Linked DNA regions of Homo sapiens. The protein of the gene in region 2 interacts with the protein of the main gene of each other region in a biochemical or structural test. Each region holds a gene or a part of one and is shown on either strand. Other genes may lie near its edges.

What was found.
Region 1: of the proteins of FGFR1 (region 2) and BNIP2, one has a biochemical effect on the other in vitro, tested with the Homo sapiens proteins (one study listed by BioGRID).
Region 3: the proteins of FGFR1 (region 2) and RASA1 form a complex in vitro, tested with the Homo sapiens proteins (one study listed by BioGRID).
Region 4: the proteins of FGFR1 (region 2) and YES1 form a complex in vitro, tested with the Homo sapiens proteins (one study listed by BioGRID).

Annotation. Positions count from the first base shown.
Region 1 is NC_000015.10:59,674,937-59,680,176, reverse strand, and holds part of BNIP2 (BCL2/adenovirus E1B 19 kDa protein-interacting protein 2), read left to right. Parts: intron 1-408; coding exon 409-585; intron 586-2,089; coding exon 2,090-2,266; intron 2,267-5,240.
Region 2 is NC_000008.11:38,412,665-38,417,400, reverse strand, and holds part of FGFR1 (fibroblast growth factor receptor 1 isoform 1 precursor), read left to right. Parts: coding exon 1-95; intron 96-1,340; coding exon 1,341-1,531; intron 1,532-2,499; coding exon 2,500-2,622; intron 2,623-2,771; coding exon 2,772-2,842; intron 2,843-3,111; coding exon 3,112-3,249; intron 3,250-3,377; coding exon 3,378-3,483; intron 3,484-3,596; coding exon 3,597-3,773; 3' UTR 3,774-4,736. UniProt on the Homo sapiens protein: Tyrosine-protein kinase that acts as a cell-surface receptor for fibroblast growth factors and plays an essential role in the regulation of embryonic development, cell proliferation, differentiation and migration.
Region 3 is NC_000005.10:87,368,027-87,373,266, forward strand, and holds part of RASA1 (ras GTPase-activating protein 1), read left to right. Parts: intron 1-1,786; coding exon 1,787-1,874; intron 1,875-4,091; coding exon 4,092-4,169; intron 4,170-5,240. UniProt on the Homo sapiens protein: Inhibitory regulator of the Ras-cyclic AMP pathway. Stimulates the GTPase of normal but not oncogenic Ras p21; this stimulation may be further increased in the presence of NCK1.
Region 4 is NC_000018.10:731,359-736,598, forward strand, and holds part of YES1 (tyrosine-protein kinase Yes), read right to left. Parts: intron 1,608-5,240; coding exon 1,476-1,607; intron 1-1,475. UniProt on the Homo sapiens protein: Non-receptor protein tyrosine kinase that is involved in the regulation of cell growth and survival, apoptosis, cell-cell adhesion, cytoskeleton remodeling, and differentiation.

The DNA of each region.
Region 1 (5,240 bases), on a different chromosome or scaffold from region 2:
CTTTGTCCAAAAAAAAAAAAAACTTGAGTTTTTATTCCATCATAGAAGTCAAAGTATAAGTTGAACATTGAGGAAAGCATTTTTAGAATGCTTTAAAAAAAATTCCAAAAACATACACTTGGTTTTTGGAAAGTTTTACAGTAAAGGGGTGGAGGAGATCATTTTTAGTGGTAAGAGGTATCTATAAGGTCTGCCTCTATTTAAAAGACATTGATACTTTATTGATCTCTTGCCAACGATGTAGAAGCAATAATGATCAGAATAAAAATTTTGTGAATAGGTGCTTTGAAATTATGTTCAATTAATATTATTTTTTCCCAAGAATGGGGTAGTTAAAATTTTTCTTATTCAACTTTAGCATCTAAGCATTCCTTGTTACGTATCTTTTTCTTTATTTTCCAATTCCAGGCTCACTAGAAGTTAATGGAAATAAAGTGAGAAAGAAACTAATGGCTCCAGACATTAGCCTGACACTGGATCCTAGTGATGGCTCTGTATTGTCAGATGATTTGGATGAAAGTGGGGAGATTGACTTAGATGGCTTAGACACACCGTCAGAGAATAGTAATGAGTTTGAGTGGGAAGGTAAATGTTTCACTGTTTTTAATCTGATCTTTATTAATGTACTAAGGGATTTTGTTTGAAATACATCATTCTTTCTAAAGTTCATATATTTGTTACTAAGATAGGAAATTGTGCTAACCCTTGAATATTCTCAAGGACTTAAAAAGTGTGTATAGAGTACACCAGTGGCTTTTTTCCCCTCTTATTTGCCCACTGCTCTCATGTTTTTTTCATAGCTGTTTCAAAAATATTTCTTGATAATTATGGCATGCTCTTTTTTAGTCAATCAAGTAAGAAACTTTTGAAGAGACATATAGTTAACAGTTTGTGGGAAGGGAGTTCTGAAAGGAGGCATTTGGGGTGACTTTTTAAGTAGGTTTGCCTGACATTGCTCTACTTTGTGAAATGACCAACTTAAATTAATGTATACTTTTAGCCCCCGAACCTAGTATTCCTTATTACTTGTAATTCAAAGGAATTGTGCTGTTTTACTTTGCATGCTTTCTTTAATTACAAAATTGTCTACAGTATCTTATATATAGTTGTTATAATTTTTACATATTTTTTTCCATCTTGAAAATGATTTTGTTTTCATAGTAGTGTTTAGCATTCAGTATTTTACTGTAATAAAGTGTGATATGCTATATTTTTGGTTTCTTTTTTCTTCCCTGTTTTACTGGTTCAATAAACAGTCCAGTAGTAAGCAATACTTTGTAAAGATACTGAAATAGTTTTGTGCCTATGTGTTTTGTCTCTTCTTTCTTTAATGCTGCTGTAGTCATTTCCTGGAAGGATATTTTCCGTTAACAGCTTTGTCTTGGAAACAACTAACATGCAGTAGGTTTCCCCCTCCCCCCATCTTTTGGTAAGGACTATAATACTGAAATTTTGAAAATTATTACTACATTGAAAATCAGCTAAACTGCAATCTCAAAACATAAATTACACTTAATCATTGGTGCTTATGCTTTGGCTAATGCTAATTTAAATAGACTTCTGCATGTATACTTCAAAGTATTATAAATACATTTCTGCTTTATAAAACTGATCAAATGAGAAGTGATCATTGAGTAGTTAACCACTTCCTATCTGGTATTACAGTTAATTTATGTGCTCAACAACAACAAAATTGGCTCCCAGATAGCTACTTGAAGTAACCTATAGTCATAACTGCCAGGGAGAATATTGTCACAAGTTGAATCTGGAAAGGCATTGTAAGGCCAGTGTACTAAGATTTTGATGACTCTACAAATTATATTTTCTGAACTTGTGGATACACGTTTCACTATGATTAGGTGGTTTTTGCTAAATTGGGCAATAAAAGTTAAAGAACCATGATTTCCAAAGACATAAAACAGCCTCATGTTAAGAATAAGCCTTTTCCTCCTTTATGGAAGAGAGATTGAAAATTGTGCAGATGGTATAATGAAAATTCTCTGTAAAATCTAGGTAGTAAAGTGGTTAACGTATAATTTGATTTTTGTTGTGTAACAATTTGTGATTCAAAAACTTTGTATTTTGACAGATGATCTTCCAAAACCCAAGACTACTGAAGTAATTAGGAAAGGCTCAATTACTGAATACACAGCAGCAGAGGAAAAAGAAGATGGACGACGCTGGCGTATGTTCAGGATTGGAGAACAGGACCACAGGGTTGATATGAAGGCAATTGAACCCTATAAAAAAGTTATCAGCCATGGGGGTAAGAGTTACTGAGGATTTTTCAGATTGTTTAATGCAATATCAGAATTCTTTTTTTTTTGGAAGGATATCTGTTTATTAAGAGTAAATAAGCCCTGTACAGAACACAGGCGCTAGGTTGAGAGACTCGTCTTTTGTAGGACATTTCTTCCTGCTAACCAGTTCCTGGAGGGCTTGTTTTTTTTGTAACTTTACACAAGGGGCACTAATGGAAAATATAGCTTTCTCAAGACATCTGATGTCAGTTTCCCATTGTTTTGCTTCACAAACATCAACAAAGTAAACCTGAACATGCTTAGCAATTTCCCAATGTTCTTTGCTGACATTACTTTTGACATACTGTGTCAAAATTCTTAAGGTCTCCCCTCCTTTGGTAAAGTAGGCAAAACCTTACAAGGAAAACACTATAATACGTGGAAATATACTGAGTTAGATTTCCAGTCACCTGCTCTATGGCTCTGAGATGCACTATATCCATAATGGTTCCTAGGACTGTGTCCACCTGATGGTTTGGAGTACGGAAAACCAACCCTTATGGCTTAAGAGTCATCTCCCATGGAAGACGATGCTGGCCTTCTGAACGCTGGGGCTCATGGGCTTGTTGATGTGGCTTTCTGGTGTGCCAGGATCCCCTGGCAGCTCCTGTATACTTCAGTCAAGCAGTCCAGCCGGGGCTTGGCACTCTGGAAGACGGGTACTACTTGGGATATCCCATGTGGTTCCACTGGATCCTTCAATAAGATGCAGAGGTAGTAAATCACCTTCTGCATGTAAATAGCCTCATTGATGACAATATCCTTGACCTTGCCCATTTCTATGAAGGTAGTGCTTTCTTAGCCTGAAGCATAAGATGAAGTCATCTGAATGCCAAGGGAATCAATGATTAACAGTCTCCTGATCAATCTTCACAAAATGGAGATAACCAAGCAGACCTAAGAGGGTGATGAAGATGGCAGCAGAGAGGATCATGCTGTTCTCGCAGAGGGTGAAGAGTCCGTAGGCTGCCAGCCACACCGTGCAGGTGACAGCGGTGAGCGAACGCAGCGAGAGCCCAGGGCAGCTGAGGCAGAATTCCCGGCAGGAAGGGAAGTAGTAGCGGCGCTGCAGGGCCAGGCGGCCACCGCAGATATCCGAAAAGCTCCGCTCATCCTCCATGACACCCCAACTCTGCCGCCCGCACCGCACCGCGCGGCACTCCACTGCGCTCGCCTGCCCTAGCCGTTTCATGCAATATCAGAATTCTAAATACTTTTAGAAACTCTGCCTAGAGATATTATGTAATTTTGAAAGAATAATAAGCATTTCTCATTCATTTTAGAAACATGACAGGTTTAAAGTAAAAGAATAAAAGTACCATTTAAAAATGATTATATGCATACAGTAAGTTGAAAAAGTACAAAAGAATTTGTAGTGAAAACTGTCAGGTTGGGCACGGTGGCTCAGGTTTGTAATCCCAGCAATTTGGGAGGCTGAGGCAGGAGGATTACTTGAGCCCAGGAGTTCAGGACCAGCTTGGGCAACATAGACCTCGTCTCCACAAAAAAATAAAAAAAATAAAAAAATAAATAAAATTAGCCAGGAGTGGTGGCATATGCCTGTAGTCCCAGCTACTTAGGAGGCTGGGGTGGGAGGAGAGAGAGCTTGAGCTTGGGAAGATGAGGCTTCAGTGGCCGTGATCATCCCACTGCACTCTAGTTTTTTGTTTTGTTTTGGTTTTTGACCCTGTCTCAAAATTAAAAAATTTTTTAAACTGTCTCTAGGCTACCCAAAACTGGGACTGAACAGTCTCCCTAATTTATAAACAGTGAAATGCTCTGATCTTAAGTGTGCAGTTCAATGAGTTTTGACAAATGCCTATATAACCATATATACCCATATATATAAAACCCATACCCCTAAAAATGTAGAACATTTTCATTGTCCCAGAAGAATTATTTAGTACCCCTGTGCAATGAATACTCAGCTTCGGTAGCCACTGTCATATCTACCCCCTGATTAGTTTTGCCTCTTCTAGAATTTCATATATAGTAACTAAAATCATCCTATGCACTCTTTTGTTTACTTTTCAGCATGAAGTTTTTGAGATTCATCCATGTTGTTGCACGTATCCACAGTACATTCCTTCTTATTGCTGAGTAGTTTTCCATTGCTTGGATAAACCATAATTTGCTTATCCGTTTTTTTTTATGTGCATGTGAGTTGTTTCCAGCTTGGGCTGTTATAAACAAAACTGCTTTGAACATTCTTGTAGAAGTCATTTATGGATATAAGTAAAACTTGGACTCTTTTTGTTTTGTTTTGTTTTGAGACAGAGTCTTGCTCTGTCACCCAGGCTGGAGTGCAGTGGCGTGACAGCTCACTGCAACCTCTGCCTCCTCGGTTCAAGGGATTCTCCTGCCTCAGTCTCCCGAGTAGCTGGGATTACAGGTGCACGCCACCATGCCCAGCTAATTTTTTGTATTTTTAGTAGAGAAAGGGTTTCACCATGTTAGCCAGGATGGTCTCGATCACCTGACCTCGTGATTTGCTCACCCCAGCCTCCTGAAGTGCTGGGATTACAGGCATGAGCCACCGTGCCCGGCCCTAAAACTTGGACTTTTTAACCTTAACTCTTAATTTGCCTTAAAACCGTGAACAAATTTTTTTTTCTTTTTTTTTTTTTTGAGATGGAGTCTCATTCTGTCACCCAGGCTGGAGTGCAGTGGCGCAATCTCGGCTCACTGCAACCTCTGCCTCCCAGGCTCAAGCGATACGCCAGCCTCAGCCTCCCAAGTAGGTGGGACTACAGGTGCACGCCACCACGCCTGGCTAATTTTTGTATTTTTAGTAGAGACGGGGTTTCACCATATTGGCCAGGCTGGTCTCGAACTCCTGACCTTGTGATCTGCCCGCCTCAGCCTCCCAAAGTGCTGGGATTACAGGCATGAGCCACAGTGCCCAGGCCAAATTATTTTTTAATAGAGAACTAGTTCACT
Region 2 (4,736 bases):
AGACTTGTCAGACCTGATCTCAGAAATGGAGATGATGAAGATGATCGGGAAGCATAAGAATATCATCAACCTGCTGGGGGCCTGCACGCAGGATGGTGGGTGCCGGCCAGACTGGCTTTCCCTGCCCAGCGGGGAGAAGATCTGAGCTGGGGTATCAGTCCCAAGGCCTCTCTCAGCCACAGCTAGGGAAGGGGGTTAAGAGAGGCTGCTTTGGCAGAGGTTTAAAATGTGTTATCTCGGGATCTGGGCTCCGCTCATTGGTGTTCATTCAGGAATACAGATACCTAGATTCACACACGTGGTGTGTTAACAGAGGCAGCTGAGTAATTATGGTCTAAGAGCGCTCAGGCTGGGTGCAGTGGCTCATGCCTGTAATCCCAGCAATTTGGGAGGCCGAGGCAGGAAGATCACTTGAGATCAGGAGTTCGAGACCAGTCTGGTCAAAATGGTGAAACCCCATCTCTACTAAAAAATACAAAAGTTAGCCAGGCATGGTCACGCATGCCTATAATCCCAGCTACTCAGGAGGCTGACGCATAAGACTTGCTTGAACCCGGGAGGTGGAGGTTGCAGTGAGCCAAGATCACGCCATTGTACTCCAGCTTGGGAGATACTCCCGCTGTCTCAAAAATAAAATAAATAAATAGGCCAGGCACAGTGGCTCACGCCTGTAATCCCAGCACCTTGGGAGGGTGAGGCGGGTGGATCACTTGAGGTCAGGAGTTGGAGACCAGCCTGGCCAACAGGTGAAACCCCATCTCTACTAAAAATACAAAAAGTAGCCGGGCGTGGTGGCGCATGCCTGTAATTCCAGCTACTCGGGAGGCTGTGGCAGGAGAATCGTTTGAACACGGGAGGCGGAGGTTGCGGTTAGCCGAGATCGCGCCATTGCACTCCAGCTTGGGCAACGAGCAAAACTCCATCTCAAAAAAAAAAAAAAAAAAAAAAAAAATTAGCCAGGCATTGTTCATGCCTGTAATCCCAGCTGCTTGGGAGGCTGAGGCAGGAGAATCACTTGAATCCAGAAGGCAGAGGTTGCAGTGAGCCGAAATTGCGCCACTGCACTCCAGCCTGGGCAACAGAGTGAGACTCCATCTCAAAATAAACAGACAAACTGGGGCTCTTACCCCAATGTTGCTCGGGAATTTTCTGGACTATGCTGGGAGTAATTATTTCTCTGATTTTTTTTGGGTAGTAGAATGGATTTCCCAGGTCCCCTAAGAGGAGGCAGGAGATGGGAGGTTGGCCGGGGTGTGCTGCTGGGGGTGGGGTTTCTTTGAGGTGAAGCCAAACCTGCTCACCTGCTGCTGGCCCCATGGCCTCTTCTCCTGTGCCTGCAGGTCCCTTGTATGTCATCGTGGAGTATGCCTCCAAGGGCAACCTGCGGGAGTACCTGCAGGCCCGGAGGCCCCCAGGGCTGGAATACTGCTACAACCCCAGCCACAACCCAGAGGAGCAGCTCTCCTCCAAGGACCTGGTGTCCTGCGCCTACCAGGTGGCCCGAGGCATGGAGTATCTGGCCTCCAAGAAGGTGTGGAACCTGAAGGCTCCCCTGGGTAATGCCAGGGTGGGAACAGAGCCCCCCTAGTCTTCCAGCCTGTGACTTATCATCTTGTGGTGGCGTTGTGGATGCACTGAGCACTGGCCCTGTGTGCCCTGTGTGTTGTCTTAGGCTCTCTGGGAACTGCAGAGTCAGGAGCACCAGTGTAGCCAGGTGGCCTTGGGGTCAGACTGATGCAGGGTCCGATCTGTGCACTGCCACTTTCTGCGTAGCCTCAGGCAGCTACTTAGCATCTTAAAATTCTTCAAATACAAAATAATAATAATATCAGCTGGGTGCAGTGGCCAAGGCGGGAGGATTGCTTGAGCTCAGGAGTGTGAGACCAGGTTGGGCAATATATTGAAACCCCGTCTTTAAAAAAAAAAAAAAAATTAAAAAATTAGCTGGGTGTGGTAGTGCGTGCCGATAGTCCCAGCTACTCGGGAGGCTGAGGTGGGAGGCTAGCTTGAGCCCAAGAGTTTGAGGCTGCACTGAGCCATGATCACACCACTGCACCCCAGCCGGGGCGACAGAGCAAGGCCCTGTCTCAAAAGAAAATAAAGTATAACAATACCTGTTGTAGAATTGTTATGAAGATAAAATGAAACTGTCTGTGAGTGTTGAGTGCAGTGTTTGGTGTGTAAGGGCTGGCCTGGTTTGAGCCCAGCCCCATGTGGACTTGCTGTGCTGGGAGGCAGGACCTAGGAGCATGCATCGCTGCAGACGCAGCAGAGGCATAAGGGGCCAGTCTTTGGGGAAGGAAGGGAGGAGCGCTTGCTGTGATGAGAAGCCTGGAGCTGGCAGAGAATGTTAGAAGAGGGAAAGCAAAGGTTCGGGGGGCAGAGCAGTGTGGCAGAAGTTCTATGAGACAAGTCGGCTAGTTGCATGGGTGGCGGCCGCCCAGAGCCTTCCAGCTCCCTCACCTCCCCGCCTCCCGCTCTCCCTTCCTCCTTCCTCAGTGCATACACCGAGACCTGGCAGCCAGGAATGTCCTGGTGACAGAGGACAATGTGATGAAGATAGCAGACTTTGGCCTCGCACGGGACATTCACCACATCGACTACTATAAAAAGACAACCAACGTGAGTGCCGACAAGGCCGCCCTGTGCTGGTGGTTTCATCTGAGAAGCAAGGAGTGGGGTGGGCTGAGAACCCACCCCCCAGTCCCTTCCCACCTGTGCCCTCATGGCCCTGCCTGGGGCCACTCCAACCTCCCCTGTGCTGCTTTCAGGGCCGACTGCCTGTGAAGTGGATGGCACCCGAGGCATTATTTGACCGGATCTACACCCACCAGAGTGATGTGTGAGTTTGTAATAGCAATTGCCAGGGAGGTGTGGGATAGAGAGCTTCTAGCACTGTAGAGTCCTGCTTTCTCCCTGGACTGAGGAGTCCTCTTTCTGCCCCAGAGAGAAAAACAAAACATTGTCTGTGGCCATTCCCTCTGCTCCAGATGTTGAAAGGCTGATCTGTTCTCCATGCTGTCTCCTGGCACTGCCCTGGGTAGAGGATTTGTGCTGGGGGAGGGGAGGCGGAGAAGCTCTAACACCCTGTGGCTCTCCGCCCATTTGCAGGTGGTCTTTCGGGGTGCTCCTGTGGGAGATCTTCACTCTGGGCGGCTCCCCATACCCCGGTGTGCCTGTGGAGGAACTTTTCAAGCTGCTGAAGGAGGGTCACCGCATGGACAAGCCCAGTAACTGCACCAACGAGCTGTAAGCCCGAGGAGATGTCGGAGGCCCTGAGCCAGGCCTTGGGGCAAGAGTGGGCTTGAGGGGCAGGGGGCTAGACTAGAGAGTATCCATCTCCAGGAGACGTCCCTGACCTTACAGTCCTGCCGCAGGTACATGATGATGCGGGACTGCTGGCATGCAGTGCCCTCACAGAGACCCACCTTCAAGCAGCTGGTGGAAGACCTGGACCGCATCGTGGCCTTGACCTCCAACCAGGTAAGGCTGCCCGTGCCAGAGCCAGAGCTCAGGCCGTCCCCACTGCGTGCACGCACCTCCCTGAGCAGGGAGGAGGGGCCCGGCCCATCGCTGCTTCCTCTCGCCCATCACAGGAGTACCTGGACCTGTCCATGCCCCTGGACCAGTACTCCCCCAGCTTTCCCGACACCCGGAGCTCTACGTGCTCCTCAGGGGAGGATTCCGTCTTCTCTCATGAGCCGCTGCCCGAGGAGCCCTGCCTGCCCCGACACCCAGCCCAGCTTGCCAATGGCGGACTCAAACGCCGCTGACTGCCACCCACACGCCCTCCCCAGACTCCACCGTCAGCTGTAACCCTCACCCACAGCCCCTGCTGGGCCCACCACCTGTCCGTCCCTGTCCCCTTTCCTGCTGGCAGGAGCCGGCTGCCTACCAGGGGCCTTCCTGTGTGGCCTGCCTTCACCCCACTCAGCTCACCTCTCCCTCCACCTCCTCTCCACCTGCTGGTGAGAGGTGCAAAGAGGCAGATCTTTGCTGCCAGCCACTTCATCCCCTCCCAGATGTTGGACCAACACCCCTCCCTGCCACCAGGCACTGCCTGGAGGGCAGGGAGTGGGAGCCAATGAACAGGCATGCAAGTGAGAGCTTCCTGAGCTTTCTCCTGTCGGTTTGGTCTGTTTTGCCTTCACCCATAAGCCCCTCGCACTCTGGTGGCAGGTGCCTTGTCCTCAGGGCTACAGCAGTAGGGAGGTCAGTGCTTCGTGCCTCGATTGAAGGTGACCTCTGCCCCAGATAGGTGGTGCCAGTGGCTTATTAATTCCGATACTAGTTTGCTTTGCTGACCAAATGCCTGGTACCAGAGGATGGTGAGGCGAAGGCCAGGTTGGGGGCAGTGTTGTGGCCCTGGGGCCCAGCCCCAAACTGGGGGCTCTGTATATAGCTATGAAGAAAACACAAAGTGTATAAATCTGAGTATATATTTACATGTCTTTTTAAAAGGGTCGTTACCAGAGATTTACCCATCGGGTAAGATGCTCCTGGTGGCTGGGAGGCATCAGTTGCTATATATTAAAAACAAAAAAGAAAAAAAAGGAAAATGTTTTTAAAAAGGTCATATATTTTTTGCTACTTTTGCTGTTTTATTTTTTTAAATTATGTTCTAAACCTATTTTCAGTTTAGGTCCCTCAATAAAAATTGCTGCTGCTTCATTTATCTATGGGCTGTATGAAAAGGGTGGGAATGTCCACTGGAAAGAAGGGACACCCACGGGCCC
Region 3 (5,240 bases), on a different chromosome or scaffold from region 2:
GTTCTTTGTCAGTTTTAGAAAACTCTTGGTTAGTATCTGTTTAAATGTTTAGTATCTAATTTAAACAGTTGTTCTGCCACATTCCTTTTTCTTCTTGGAGTCTGGTTAAAAAAAAAGTTGCACTATTTCCCATGCTGTTTTCTGTTTTTCATCCTTTTTCCTCTGTACCAACCTATATATTTTCTTCTGATCTTTCAGTTCACTAATCTTCCATTCTGCAGTTAAATCCACTTTTTCAGGACTTCATTTTATTACATTTTTTTCAATTTAGAATTTCCATTTTTTTAAAGATACAGTTTCTGGCAAAATTCTTGTTACCTATTTTCTTAAACATTTTAATTATAATTACTTGAAAGTCTTGTCTGTCTTCAGTATCTGCATTATATGTATGTCTTTCTGGTTTTTCATCTTAACTTTTAGCCATTTAATCCTGATGCCTGTAGTGTCTACTTAGTTTGACTAAGTGGTAGACATTGTACATGAAAAACTATGGAAACTAATGTTATTGCGTCCAGAAAGAATTGTTCTTACGGATGGTATAGGGTTAGTACATCTTGTAAAGGCTGTTCTATTTCTGGTTTGCCCTTATCATGAAGGCACAGCCCTTCAGGGGTCTCAATGGAAAGCCTGAAATTCATTCTTTTTTCTCCTAGCACTATCAAACTACTGGATTTGTAGTTAATTTTTTAGCCTTTTAGGAACTATTTTCTGCTTAGCGTCTCAGCTACACAGCCAGCTTAGGAACTGGCAACTGCCTTGAACGGAAAAGATGTGGAGAATGTCGGGTTAATTATAGTATGATCTTGGCTCCTCAAATCTTAGCTGCTTTGGTTGTTCTCCAGTGCTTTCAAACAGTTGTTTTTCTGTTTTGTATTACTATTTTAAGTTTTATCCAACTAGGGTGGTTAGTCTGATACAGGCAACATTTAGGATTAGAAGTTTCCAATTCCTATTTTCCATGATTACTTTTAAGACATTCTCAAAGCATGAAAATATAGTCTTTATCTTTAATAAGTGTTAAGCTTGTCCTCTGTGTATTTTTGCTATGGCCTCCTAACATTAGCATGATATAAAATCTTTAAAGCAGGAAACAGAAGTAACATTTATTGAGTTCCAAAAACATGCAGGCCCTTAATAAAGATTTTACCAATATTTTCAAGTCTAGTTGGAAAGATAGCACATTTCCAAAATGATATAAATTATTACCTAATATTGTACTTACATATCAAATGATTTGAAATAATACTAAAGGAAGACAAGAACATTTGTTGTACACAACTGTTCACTTAAACTCTAGAACAAGCATATGTATGAAGAGATGATGTTTCCATTTTAACAGGTGAAGAAAAATGATCAGTTTAGAAAAATTTGAAAATACAGAATCACCTACAATCTCCTTAGAGATAATTACTTAGAACATTTTTGGTCTAAGAACATTTCTAGTCTTTTTCCAGTGCATATAAAGCTTTTCAAATTAGCTGTGTGCAGTTCTAGCAGTTCAGCTTCAATCTGTTTGTAACTTTATTTCTAATGTATTTTACAATTAATTGAAATTTCTTTAGTTTACACTTTGAAATACTGATAACATTTTAATAGTGCTGACATAAAGTTTTCTAAAATATATATAGCTGACTTTTTTTTAGTAATGATCTGGTACAATGGAGTATTATTTCTTTAAGAATTATAATTTTATGTTAATTATTTATTGTGAGTGTTTTGGAAGCTGGTATAAATATTTTGCTACTTTTTATTAAGCTTCCTAATAATTTTTGTTTTTATTTTAAAGGCCAAACTGTTTTCAGATAGTAGTTCAGCACTTTAGTGAAGAACATTACATCTTTTACTTTGCAGGAGAAACTCCAGAACAAGCAGAGGTAAGATTACTGTTTCTCAAACTACAGTATACTTTTATGTTAGCCCATGTTTTCTTATTAACTGGAATAGAAAATGATCGCATTCAAGATAAAGTGACAGAACGCCTGAAATCTAATCATCTCTTATTTTAAGGAATGAGATTTCATATGTAAAAAGTTTTCTGAAAGAAATGCAAAAACAAACACAGTGAAGGGTTATTAGGAATGAAAACTCCATTTTAAATTGACCTTTAAATACTCTATGATGTTGAGGCCAACTGAGAATGCTCATTTAAAATCCTCTCTGCATAAAGGTTATAGGTCATCTCAGTATAATCCAAAGGTAAGCCAGTTAACCAGTTAGTTTTGCTAACAAGCATTATTCTTCACTGGTTGAACTCCATGTCTGAAAATAAAAGTCAGTCAACACAAGGAAAGATATTTTAGGAATCTATTCTCTAAGCCAAGTCGAGATATAATGTCTACTTTAGATTAGCTATTAATCCATGTGCAGTGTCCTTCTTATAGCGTCTATTAAGTAATTGTGTGAAGAAATAATATTTTTTAAAAAACACTCTTTAAAAAATATTTTGCAACAAAGGGAGAACCCACCTCTATAACAAAAGTAAAAAATTAGCTAGGTGTTCTGGCTTATGCCTGTAGTCCCAGCCACTGGGTAGAATGAGGCAGGAAGATTGCATTAGCACAGGAGTTTGAGTTACAGTGAGTAAGATCGAGACACTGTAAGCCAGCCTAGGCAACAAACTGAGACACTGTCTCTTAAAAAATTTTTTTGCTTTCTTTGAACCCTAATATTTCTGGAGTATATGGTTGTATTTTATACAAATACAGCTAAATTTCTGCTTATATTCTAACGAAGGAACTTAAAGGTGGTTAAGAAGTGAAAGTGGCTTTGTTGGAAATATAATTTGCCAACCCTAGATATGAGGAAGATGCTCTTAAAACTAGATCCTAGCGTGAGACTCACAGAATAAACCTGAATGAGCTTACAACTGAACGTCATATTTCACATCTTTATCAAATATCTCATTTAATGCTCATTTCACATGTAATGCACATAAAATTTTACGGCTATGTATCCCTAATTTTTAGATGAGAAAGGTAGTGCTCAAAACATTTTGGTAACTTACATGATTTTTTTAAATGTTAGAAATTGAGTTAGAAATTTAAACTTCAGTATCCTATTTTCTAAGTATTTTACCATGGTCCCTCTTTCTGAATAAAATGTCACATACCATAATGACATTTCAGCATGTTTTGCAAGCCTAACATAGAACATTTTTTAATGTATTTATACATAATATTTCTGTATTTCCATAAATGGTATTTCCAGTTTTTGTTGATTTATTGGGCTGTGGGGGTCTCTGGTTATTCTCTTCTATTTCAAAAAGCTATGGTAACTGATTTGGTTTTAATTTGCTGTAATATAAAGACAGTCTCTAGATATTAATAAAGTTCAGCTTCATTGAAATAGCCAACAAACTAAAGACATAATTGAATAAAGCAATAGTACACAGCTTTCCAGAAATATGTAAAAACCAAAGTGAATATTTAGATTTGTTTTTAATAAACCTTAGTTCTCTCCTTTTCCCCAAAGCACTAGATAAACATTTTAAAAATATGGCTGCAATTTGATTTGAATATTAGGCTAAAATGATTTTTAAAATCTAATGTTATATTTGAGAAGCTTAAAAATAACCCAAATCCCCTTATACATTTCTACCTGTATCATGGTCTAAAGTATAGATTAATATGCTTGTCATGGGATCGGTCATCACATTATCAGTTGGTTTTACAATCAGCACTCTCCCCCTCTCACAAAGTGTATCAAGTTAAATTCCACCTAAGCTTGCCTCAAGTATAACAGCTTAATTATACAGTTAATTTCCCCAAGGTAGTATCTGTTTGGGAGAAATAGTTTCTTTAATGTAAATTTGATTTTTTGGCTAATTAATGGCCACTCGATGTGTTTCATACATAAATTCAAACAAAGATTTATACAGAATTACAATTGTTTTGGTTGTTTTATTATTGTTATTGTTATGTTATTGTTATTTTATTATTGGTTATTGTTATGAAGTACAGTATAGTCTGAGAATAGAAATGGCAGTCTAGAGAAGGAAAAAATTGTTGAATTTGAAAAAAAAAACCTAACTGATGATTTGGAAGCCAAATAAACTAGTGTATATTTCTTTGAAGTGCTGTTTTTCTTTGCAGGATTGGATGAAAGGTCTGCAGGCATTTTGCAATTTACGGAAAAGTAGTCCAGGGACATCCAATAAACGCCTTCGTCAGGTGAAGCTTAATTTTCTTGGATTTTTAATTGTCACATTTTGCTCTAACACTTTGCTCTTTTTATTTTATTTTTATCTGAACTGTTTTGGACATCATATGGGGTTAAGCCATGCTGCCACTTGCTTCAGTAGCAGGAAAACGTTACTTCTTTATGAAAGAGAATGTTCTTTCTTAGTCCATGCCAACTGTTAAAAACATAAGAAAGATTATTCTTCCACTTTAAATAACAACACTAAACCAACACAGCAGAAACGGTTCTGTTGGGCACTTAATTTTCCTTCAAAAACTTATTTTGGCCTCTTTCAAAAAAGTAGAACATTGAAAAGATCATCAGATTTATAGCACTAATCCCAATAAACTTTTTTGGGATTTTCATTTTGAAGAACAGCTTTTAAAACCTACTGCTTAACTCTTAGGAAATATTTAATCTTATTTGAAACTGTAACATGCCCTATACTTTGAGATTTGTGGAGAGTTAAGCTAGGCTTTCTCTTTTTTTTGCCTTTACAAGGGTAACTTTATAACCTCCATTTCTTGGCTTTTTTCTTTTTAGTAATCCCTGTATAATTGGAAGAAGTTAGGCAAATTTTGACATTCTCAAGGTTTAAAGAAAGTTTAGTACAATATTTATTTACTAACCAAAGTGTCTCCTGTTCTCTTTGTGCGAATATCTGATAAGCTGAGTGATTAACATACTGTTCTACTGGGAGTGGATAATGGTTGATATTTAGGTGACTAAATAGTCCCTGTAACCCAAAGTCTGGCTCTTCCCCAGGGAAATTTAAGTATACACACAATCGCCATGTCTTCATAACATTGTAACATTTTGTAAGCTATCAAAAATCAGATTGGATTTTTGCTAATAAGAGCAAGTTGTATTTTGTGTGAAACTTGAGCCATTAAAATGACATTTGCAGGTTTAATATAATCATAGCTAACATCTCTCAAGCACTTTTTATGTATCAGTGGGCAGTGTGATTTAGTGATTTACATATACTGTCAGCCCTTTCTATTCATGGGTTCTGCATCAGTGGACTCTACCAACCATGGGTCGAAAAAATACAATAAAAA
Region 4 (5,240 bases), on a different chromosome or scaffold from region 2:
ATGGTGAGTCATTAAATGAGAATAACTTGAATGGTATCAGTGAATAACAGCAACCAGACAAAGTGGGTGATAAAATTTGATGGCATTAGATCTACAGCTGGAGGGAACTGTAGGGAAGAGGAATATGTTAGATAACATGCAAAACCCATAAGATTAGCAAAACAGTTTTTCCTAAAGATTAAATTTTATATGCTTTCACTCTCAACATTAGGATACTTCAGTACAAGAGTTTAGAAGTAACAAACTAAAGTAATACTGATCGCTGAATTTCAAGTGAGCTAAAATTTCTCCTTCCCCCTAGAAACTATATAAATCTCTTAATTTTGAGGCCAGGCACGGTGGCTCACGCCTGTAATCCCAGCATTCTGGGAGGCCGAGGCGGGCAGATCACAAGGTCAGGAGATCGAGACCATCCTGGTTAACACGGTGAAACCCCGTCTCTACTAAAAATACAAAAAATTAGCTGGGCGTGGTGGCGGGTGCCTATAGTCCTAGCTACTCGGGAGGCTGAGGCAGGAGAATGGCGTGAAGCTGGGAGGTGGAGGCTGCAGTGAGCTGAGATCGTGCCACTGCACTCCAGCCTGGGCGACAGAGCGAGACTCCATTTCAAAAAAAAAAAAAAAAAAAAAGTCTCTTAATTTTGAAAGGGAAACACTTTCATTTTTCCTCTTTATTAATGGCAGATATATTTATTAAAGTGCTGGTTTATAAATAGGTTAGAGAAATAAAACAAGAAAAGAATCTCAAAATAATCTACTGAAGAAAACAAGGCAAGTACATATTTAAAAAAATATACCATGATGGGCACGGTGGCTCACGCCTGTAATCCCAGCACTTTGGGAGGCCTAGGCAGGTGGATCACCTGAGGTCAGGAGTTCGAGACCAGCTTAGCCAACATGGCAAAACCCCATCTCTACTAAAAATACAAAAAATTAGCTGGGTGTGGTGGTGGGTGCCTGTAATCCCAGCTACTTGGGAGGCTGAGGCAGGAGAATTGCTTGAACCCGGGAGACAGGTTGCAGTGAGCCAGACTGTACCACTGCACTCCAGCCTGGGTGACAGAGCAAGACTGTGTTTAAAAAAAAAAAAAAAAAAAAAACAAAACACCAATCACACTACTGGGAAAGAACAGTTATTTAGGGTATAGGGTGGATGAGCCAGGATATTTAAGATATGTTTATTATCTGAGAGAACAGTAAGAGGCCCCTTTGGAAAATGTCCTGAGAAAGCTGAGGTGAATGTGGGGCCTATCTCATGTGCTCACCCTGTCAAGGATCGTGGCTTTCACTGACTTACCCGTCCAATGCCACAGTTACCCATCCAATGCCACAGTAAAGGGAAGGAGTGGGGAGAGGGAGAGGCAGGGGGACTATGAGAAGAAATAAAGGCCTTTTCCCCGCTTACAATTCTGTTCCTAATAAACTCCTGATAAAGCCACTCATGAGATAACCAAGAGCTATAAAATGCAAGCTTACCTGGATATGGCACTCGGCCCTTTGTTACTAGTTCTGTTTGCAGAATTCCAAATGACCAGACATCAGACTTTATTGTAAACCGACCATACAGTGCAGCTTCAGGAGCTGTCCATTTGATTGGAAATTTTGCACCTAAAATAATGTTGACCATCTTGCTTAATTGTTTTTTAAAAATCTATTTGTGTAAACATAGCATATGCAGGGCTAATGTTCTGTCAATATCTCTACTGTAGTCATCAGTGTCAATTCTTTAAATGTACAAGATACATGGGATAAAAATTCTTTAATTTTTAAAATTCATATTGAAATAAATCACATTTCTTCCTGATTAGACAGCTGATGATATAAAAAATAAGTTGGCTGTGGGAACAGAAAACAATTTAAGAAAATAGAGGTTGAAGCTCTAGTAAGCCAAAGATACATGTTATAATATGTGTAACTTTTAAGTACAGTCTGGCACCTAATAGCTGTAGTTAACTATTGGTTGATGAGTGAATATTCTATTGAGTTATAATGTTTATGGGTTTTCCTACTTTTTATATCATTCTGGAAAATTTTATTGTACTACTTTTAAAAGTCCATGTTAATTAACTCAAATACTTACTGTATATCTTTTTTGTGGAGGGCATTATGCTAATCACTATGGAAACCTAAAAAGCATGGCTTTCGGCCGGGCGCGGTGGCTCAAGCCTGTAATCCCAGCATTTTGGGAGGCCGAGGTGAGTGGATCATGAGGTCAGGAGATTGAGACCATCCTGGCTAACATGGTGAAACCCCGTCTCTACCAAAAATACAAAAAATTAGCTGGGCGAGGTGGCAGGAGCCTGTAGTCCCAGCTACTCGGGAGGCTGAGGCAGGAGAATGGTGTGAACCCAGGAGGCGGAGCTTGCAGTGAGCTGAGATTGCGCCACTGCACTCCAGCCTGGGCAACAGAGTGAGACTCCGTCTCAAAAAAAAAAAAAAAAAAAAAAAAAAAAGCATGGCTTTCATGAAGTTTATAAACTTATTGCAGAAATAATATTATAGGTGTCTTACATTCTTTAAGTTATTTATATGTGTTTGTAGATAGTGTTTTAAAACAGAGTTCTTTAGATATTTAGACAAACAGATGATCAATTTTCCTTGGCACCATTACAAAATGTTTTATTTAAAAAGTGGCAGGTGGTTGGGCACAGTGGCTCACGCCTATAATCCCAGCAATTTGAGAGGCCGAGGTGGGCAGATCACCTAAGGTCAGGAGTTCAAGACCAGCCTGGCCAACACGGTGAAACCCTGTCTGTACCAAAAATACAAAACTTAGCCAGGTGTGGTGGTGCATGCCTGTAATCCCAGCTACTCGGGAGGCTGAGGCAGGAGAATTGCTTGAACCTGGGGGGCAGAGGTTGCAGTGAGCCAAGATCATGCCACTTCACTCCAGTCTGGGCAAAAAAGCAAAACTTGGCCAGGCGCGGTGGCTCACGCCTGTATTCCCAGCACTTTGGGAGGCCGAGGTGGGCGGATCATGAGGTCAGGAGATTGAGACCATCCTGGCTAATACGGTAAAACCCCGTCACTACTAAAAATACAAAAAAAAAAATTAGCCGAGCTTGGTGGCAGGCACCTGTAGTCCCAGCTACTCGGGAGGCTTAGGCAGAATGGCGAGAACCCGGGAGGCAGAGCTTGCAGTGAGCCAAGATCGCGCCACTGCACTCCAGCCTGGGTGACAGAGTGAGACTCCATCTCAAAAACAAAACAAAACAAAAAAAACCAGGAGCAACTACAACATACAACATCACTAATCATCAGGGAAATGCAAATTAAAACTACAGTGAGACACTACCTTACTCCTGTAAGAATGGCCATAATGAATAAGTAAAAAAAAAAAACAATAGATGTTGGTGTGGATGTGGTGAAAAGGGAACATTTTTCCACTGATGGTGGGAATGTAAATTAGTACAACCACTATGGAAAACAGTATGGAAACTCCTTAAAGAACGAAAAGCAGAACTACCATTCAATCCAGCAAACCCACTACTGGGTATCTTCCCAAAGGAAATGAAATCAGCCAGGTGTGGTGGCTCACGCCTGTAATCCCAGCGCTTTGGGAAGCCAAGGCGTGTGGATCACCTGAGGTCAGGAGTTTGAGACCAGCGTGGCCAACATGGTGAAACCGTGTCTCTACTAAAATACAAAAATTAGCCGGGCCTGGTGGCAGGTGCCTGTAATCCCAGCTACAGGGGAGGCTGAGGCAGGAGAATCATTTGAACCTGGGAGGTGGAGGTTGCAGTGAGCTGAGATTGTACCACTGCACTCCAGCCTGGGCAACAGATTGAGACTGTGTCTCAAAGCAAAAAAAAAAAAATCATTATATGAAAAAGATACATCCACAAATGTTTATAGCAGCACAATTCGCAATTGCAGATATGGAGCCAATCTAAATGACCATTGACCAATGAGTGGATAAAAAAAAATGTGGCATATATACACCATGGTATACTACTCAGCCGTAAAAAGGAATGAAATAATGTCTTTTGCAGAAACTTAGAGCTAGAGGCCATTATTCTAAGTGAAGTAACTCAGGGATGGAAAACCAAATATTGTATGGTCTCACTTAAAAGTGGGGCTAAGCTATGAGGACACAAAGGCATAAGAGTAATATAATGGACTTTGGGGAGTAAGGGGGAAAGGTTGGGGGGTGGATAAAAGACTACATGTTGGAGGTGAAACCCCGTCTCTACTGAAAATACAAAAATTAGCTGGGTGTGGTGGTACGAGCCTGTAATCCCAGCTACTCGGGAGGCTGGGGCAGGAGAATCGCTTGAATCTGGGAGGCGGAAGTTGCAGTGAGCCGAGATCGTGCCGCTACACTCCAGCCTGGGCTGGGCAACAGAGTGAGACTCCGTCTCAAAAAAACAAACAAAAAAACCTACATATTGGGTACAGTGCAAGATGCTTGGGTGATGGGTGCACTGAAATCACCACTAAAGAACTAGTTTCCCAAAAACTATTGAAAAAAAAAGTGGCAGCTAAATTAGGCCCTAAAGAATGGTTAGGATTTTCACATGTAAAGATTACAGGCCGGGCATGGTGTCTCACGCCTGCCATTTTAGCACTTTGGGAAGCCAAGGCAGGAGGACTGCTTGAGCCCAGAAGTTCGAGACCAGCTTGGGCAACATGGCAAAACTTCGTCTCTACAAAAAATACAAAGAATTAGTCAGGCGTGGTAGTGTGCACCTGTAGTTCCAGCTACTCAGGAGGCTGAGGTGGGAGGATCACCTGAGCCCCAGGAGGTCAAGGCTGCAGTGGGCTGAAATCACGCCACTATACTCTAGCCTGAGCAACAGAGGGAGACCCTATCTCGAAAAACAACAACAACAACAAACATTACAGATAGGAAGGCATTCCAGATGGAGGTAACTGTACAGAAGTATGGAGGTTGAAAGAAAGCACTATGTCTAAAGCAGGGTTTCTCAATCTCAGCACCGCTACCATTTTGGGCCTGATAATTCTGTTGTGGGGGGAAGGGGGGGTTTGCCTGCACATTTCTGTACACTGTAGGAGGTTCAGCAGTATACCTGGCCTCTACCCACTAGATGTCAAGCAGTAGCCCCCAGGTTGTAACCACCAAAAAAGTCTGTAGACATTGTCAGATGTCCCCTGGTGAGTGGCGGTACAGGGCAATATCTCCTCTGACTGAGAACCTCTGGCCTTTCTAGGAAAGAAATTAAAATATATTTGTTGTCATGTCAAAAGAAGTGTAAAGAGGCTACTACTTGCTCTATGTAT